Regions from separate parts of the Homo sapiens genome. Here region 2 is linked to region 1. Evidence: fine-mapped QTL for protein levels in blood plasma. A gene starts in region 1. The other region holds a variant in brackets. All regions are shown on one strand. Distances are from middle to middle.

Region 1 (2,929 bases):
TGTAAATGTACTTAATGCCACTGAACAGTACACCTAAAAATGGTTGAAATGGTAAACACTTTATGTTCTATAATATTCATGGCATCCAAAATAACTGAGTCACTGTAGAAATGATAATGTGCCCTTTTCAGTGTGATATCGTTTCAGTATTTTTTAATTCTTTTTTTTTTTTTTTTTTAAAGGGAGTCTCGCTCTGTTGCCCAGGCTGGAGTACAGTGGCACAATCTCAGCTCACTGAAAATGAAAAGCATTTTCATTTTCCACCTCCCAAATAGCTGGGATTATAGGCTTGCAACCAGGCCCAGCTAACTTTTGTATTTTTAGTGGTGACAGGGTTTCAACAGGTTGGCCAGGCTGGTCTCGAACTCCTGACCTCAGTGATCCACCCCCCCCCTCAGCTTCCCAAAGTGCTGAGATTACAGGCATGAGCCACTGCACCTGGCCAACTTTTTCAATTTGTTCTCAAATACTCTGCACATAATAAAAGGAATATAGGAAACAGGGAGGAGGAGGGAAATGGAATCCTAATTAGGCTGTCAATATTGGTAATTTTTCCTAATAGTTTCCTATATGTTTTATTTATGTATTTATTTTTCCATTCTTCCTTTGTGTATTCTTTTCTTTGCACTTTTTTTTCCTGGAGTAATTTAAAGTAAATGCCAGATATCATATCATTTTGCTTATAAATACTTCCTTCAGAAGACATCTCTAATAGATATATATCTGGTTAGGAGGTTGTCAAGGGAAAATAGAAAAGTATTCTATCAGTAAATACATATAGACATACTTATGGGTCTCTCATGTAAGCGTCTTTGTGACATGAGTCAATCATGGATTTTACTGAAATACATTATTTGATGGGTAATTCAACTGTGCTGAATATTAGTACTATACTAATAATTATTATTTATTGGCTTCTTATTATGCTCCAAGTACAAAGCTTGTCATTTTTAACCAGCGTGTCATTTGAATTCCTATAGCAACGTGACATTTTTCACAAACCTAGTGTAAAAAAGCTTATTATTTTTACCCAGCATGTCATTTGAATTCCTATAACAATGTTATCAGGTAGACATTATCCCTAATTTCCAGACATGTCATTTGAATTCCTATAACAATGTTATCAGGTAGACATTATCCCTAATTTCCAGACAAAGACATAGATTCAAAGTATTAAGATTTCCCAAGATTGTAGACTAAAGGAAAGTACTGAAACTAGCTCTTTCTGCATTCAAAGTGCTCTCTGCTGCTACGTTACACTGGCACTGCATGAACTAGTAGCCCCAGATAAATTCTAAAATCACCCAGGACACACCATCGCTGGAAATGGGAGCCATATGTGATTCACCCCAAAATTCTTAGATCCATTGCCAGATAAAACAGTGAAAATCAAAAGAGAATATATCTGATTCGTAAAAGACACCATATAGAAACAGTCTGCTAATGAAATTAGCAAACAAACATTGGAATCAAATATTTTGGCCCATAATTCTGGCACATTTTTTACAAATGTAGTGTGACTTACTCTCTTTGAATTTCAGTTTCTGTCTCTGAAGAGTGGGTACAATATCTCTCCTCTGATGCTCATGAAAAATAGTTTTCCCTTTCATAAATTACTTAGCGAAATATCCTGAAACACCTTCAGAATCACCACTTTCTCCACCTGCAATACACATAACTCAAGAATTTGCGTCAGCGAACTTCCCAATATGAAGCAAAGCCTCTCCTTCCTCCTACCAATGATTGAGTCATTCTTCTATTAGATAACAGTAGCTATTTAAATACTTCTGCAGAAGCTCACATATTTTTAGTTTGTTGAAGTTCGTGACTGCTTCACTCTCTCATTCTTAGCTTGAATTTGGAAATGACTTTTGATGACCTAAAGATCCAGACTGTGAAGGACCAGCCTGATGAGAAGTCAAATGGAAAAAAAGCTAAAGGTACTAGGGATGGGAAAATGTGTACAGGGAAAGAATCCCAGTGTTAGCCCCAAAATGTAAATTCACCGAAGAATGGGATTAGAAAGCTAAACACCCAAGTATGGGAAAATAGAATTAATACCATTTACTTAAAAGAAAAACAAGAAGGCTATAATGATGATGATGATGACAACTTATTTATAACAATTTATACTGAGTATTTACTACAGGTTATTCTATATGTTATTCACTTTCAGAGTATTATTTCTCAGAATCTTCGCAATAACATTTTGAGATTGGTACTATTACTATCTCCCTTTTACAGAGAGCTAACTGGGCATCAGGAGGACTAACAACATCATCCAGTTTCACGGAGCTAATAAGTGGTAGAGCTAGGACTGTACCACAAACTCCCATTTATCCAGAATTCTATACATCGGAGGGCTCGGGAACCAAATTTATCTGGTGTATATAACGATAATTTCTGTAAGAGTCCTTCAGGCACTACAAAAACCTGAAGTACCTCATGAATTATGCAGGCAAAGTAAATGATATTCAGTATAGTTTAGCATAAGTTACATTTTGTTGTGTACTACTGCTTTGAAAAATTGTAAGTTCTGTTTGACCCATACAGTAATTAAATTGCATAGCTATAAATTAATTCATAATCCCAATTCCACAGACAATCTGGGTAAATTGCCTTTTATTCTATATCTGTTCTGAGGAAAATGAACAGAATATAAGGAGAGAAAGAGAGACAAGTATTGTCAGAAATTTGGATAAAGAAATTCCAAATTACATTTCCAAAAACAAAACAGAAATTTCTCTCAATAGAGAACATAAGTGTGAGCATGGAGTGATTTAACATTTGAGCCAATGAACTAAATTGCTATAAAAACTGCTGATATTTATAGGTAAAACCAGAAGTGAACAATAGTCATTCGTTTCTTTACTCATTCATTATTTGTGTAGTAAATATTGAGGGTCTGAATTTTACAATAATCATGAGA
Region 2 (2,929 bases), 33 kb after region 1:
GTAAGCTTATACAACACTGTCTTATTTATTTACAATAAATACCAAACCTTTTACAAATTAAAATAATTACTTATGCCTGTCTTATTACTTTGTTATATTTTGAAAATGCTACAGGATATCTACTATGTACTTTTTTTTTTTTTTGAGACAAGGTCTTGCTCTGTTGCCCAGGCTGGAATGCAGTGGCACGATCTTGGTTCACTGAAACCTCCGCCTCCTGGGTTCCAGCTATTCTTGTGCCTCAGCTTCCCGAGTAGCTGGGACTACAGGCATGTACCACCATGTCAGCTAATTTCTGTATTTTTAGTAGAGATAGGGTTTCACCATGTTGGCCAGGCTGGTCTCGAACTCCTGGCCTCAAGCAATCAACCCACATGGGCCACCCAAAGTGCTGGGATTACAGGTGTTAGGCACTGCACCTGACCAGCTGTGTAATTTTTAAAAGGCTGAATATATACTTCAGTAAGTTAGATAAAAAATAACAACTTCAGATATTTTGATTTCCCCTTCACTCTTATTTTTACAAAGATATATGGATTAGAATTGTTTTTTTCTCATTTTTGGTTTATTCATTAATTAATTCATTTATTTATCAACGCTCTAGTGAATACCTTCTTTCTTTAGTGCTAACAGGGTTGACAGTAATGAATATACTTAGAACCTGTTCTCATGGTGCCTACAGTGTGGTATGGAGGAAGAAAATAAACAAATTAAAAATAGCTAGCTATATGATCTTATTCATCCATTTAATGTAGTCAGTGCATCACTCTAGGCACTGGGAGTTGGTACTGAGCAAGATATGTTCCCTTCTTTCTAGGAACTGATGGTGGCAGAAATTTAAAATTAAAAATAAATGTACATGGTAATTATTGAACTCTAACAGGTGATCTTAATAGAAGCTAACTCCTAATGATGATAATTCCTTAGGAATGAAGAACCATAGATGCCTTTTAGCAGAATGAAAGTGCCATTTTTATTATGAGACAGGTCTAGCCTGCAGAAATTTTTCAGTTTTACTTGCAAATGAATAAAATAGATTAAATTCCTCTAACTTACCTTGAAATTCCTAAAACGAAGCAGCAGATGGCACCGTCACCTCATTCATGCCTGCTGATTTTGCCACATCATTTTGGTTAACTCATGCTGGCTTAGCTGAGCTCAAACACCACAAGGAATCTATTTTTATCAGTTTTTCTGTACTTACCTTATTTGCCATACAAGGATCCCAACAGAGATTTAAGACCCATTATCATTTTACTGGTGAAGAAGCAAGCATAGAAAATTAAACAATATATCTAAAGTCATACAGTCCATCAGTGACAGAGTCAGAAGCAGCAATGCCACATGCTGCATTTACTGGGTAGAACGTAGACTCTGAAATTCCAAGCTCTACAAGTAACTTGAAGTTTTTTCCTTCTTATGTAATTTAATTCACCTATATTGAGCTGTTTCTTTTATTTATTTATTTATTTATTTTGTTTCGAGGTGAGGTCTCGCTCTGTTGCCCAGGCTGGAGTGCAATTGTGCAATCTCTGCCTCCCGTGTTCAAGCAATTCTCTCACCTCAGCCTCCCGAGTAGCTGGGATTACAGGGGCGTGCCACCATTCCTGGCTAATTTTTGTATTTTCAGTAGAGATGGGGTTTTACCATGTTGGCCAGGCTGGTCTCGAACTCCTGACCTCAGGTTATCCACCCACCTAGACTTCCCAAAGTGCTTAGATTATAGGTGTGAGCCACTGTGTCCACCTTTTTTTTTT[G/T]TTGTTTGCTTTTTTAGACAGAGTCTTACTCTGTTGCCCAGGCTGGAGTGTAGTGTCAGGATCTCAGCTCACTGCAGCCTCCTCTGCCTCCCGGATTCAAAGGATTCATGCTTCAACCTCCCGAGCAGCTGGGATTACGGGCCTGTACCACCATGCCCTGCTAATTTTTGTATTTTTAGTAGAGATGGGGTTTTGCCATGTTGGCCAGGCTGGTCTTGAACACCTGGCCTCAAGTGATCTGCCCGCCTCGGCCTCCGAAAGTGCTGGGATTACAGGTGTGAGCCACTGTGCCCGGCCTGTTACCCCTCTTTTAAAAAGTGAATGGAATTTGTCAGGTGACTAGCTTCCAAATATTTTCATTGCTCAATTGCTTTTTTTCTAAATGAAATTGTATATAAAATTTCCACCTATCAAAAAAGCAACATCAGAGATGCTCTGGTTGAATCAATATTGGGACAGTCCAGAGACCTTCCTGTTTGGCCTGTCCTGCATCACATTCTGCTGTATTTTTCTACTAAAGATGATGCTGAGTTATAGGATACAGAACTGAAACATGGATGTCCAATAAAGTAACAAAAGTGAATGCAATGGAACACAGAGCCGCTATGGGTAAAATAAAGAGGGATGACCCACAGGTAACCTAAAGCAAACAAATAAACATACACAGCTGAATTTTGCTTCCTATGCCATTTTTTTTCTTGACTCCCACATTTGGAGATGCTTTTTCTTCTCTTCCAAGGTTTCTCCATTTGTACCCACGACAGGAACTGTCTATTTCGAGGGTAGATTTTACCTCCATGCCATTGCTCAAGAGTCTCCTGAAACTATCTCCTGCAGTCAAGATGAAAATGGCCAATTTGGGACTCAGTGTCCTTGGTCAACTGCCTTGTTCTTGCTTCTTCCATTTTATCTCACTGAACCCCAGGACTCCTTTTCCCAGCTACTAGGGAGGCTGACGAAGGAGAATCGCTTGAACCCGGGAGGCAGAGTTTGTGGTGAGCCAAGATGGCGCCACTGCACTCCAGCCTGGGCAGAAGAGTGAGATTCCATCCCTCCGAAAAAAGACAATTCAAAATTCAAGTAAATGATAAGTTTAAAAATACCAAAACTTGGTTTCAGGATTAATTCTAAAATTCATTTAATTGAATTTTTCTCTGATTGTACTCTTGAAA

Which allele goes with the higher level. Positions count from the first base shown, and alleles are read on the strand shown. Strength reflects both the effect of a copy and how common the allele is.
With allele T in place of G in region 2, the plasma level of the protein whose gene starts at base 1,810 in region 1 is higher (weak association).

What was found. PIP is the posterior inclusion probability: the model's chance that the variant is causal. Protein levels are from antibody-based Olink assays in UK Biobank. Linkage for the fine-mapping came from a reference panel and not from the study's own genotypes, which makes the PIPs less certain.
Region 2: its variant is fine-mapped to the plasma level of the OLR1 protein (UK Biobank, PIP above 0.99).

What each region holds. Positions count from the first base shown.
Region 1 is chr12:10,171,013-10,173,941 of GRCh38, reverse strand. It overlaps OLR1 (oxidized low density lipoprotein receptor 1), which reads left to right and starts at 1,810. Exons shown (of 6, transcript NM_002543.4): 1 at 1,810-1,940. The coding sequence starts at 1,865. It also overlaps a transcript of TMEM52B not described here.
Region 2 is chr12:10,138,365-10,141,293 of GRCh38, reverse strand. No RefSeq gene overlaps it. Among named protein-coding and RNA genes, the nearest start is that of CLEC7A, 9.6 kb to the right of the region's middle. The variant G/T (reference allele first, on the strand shown) is at 1,758.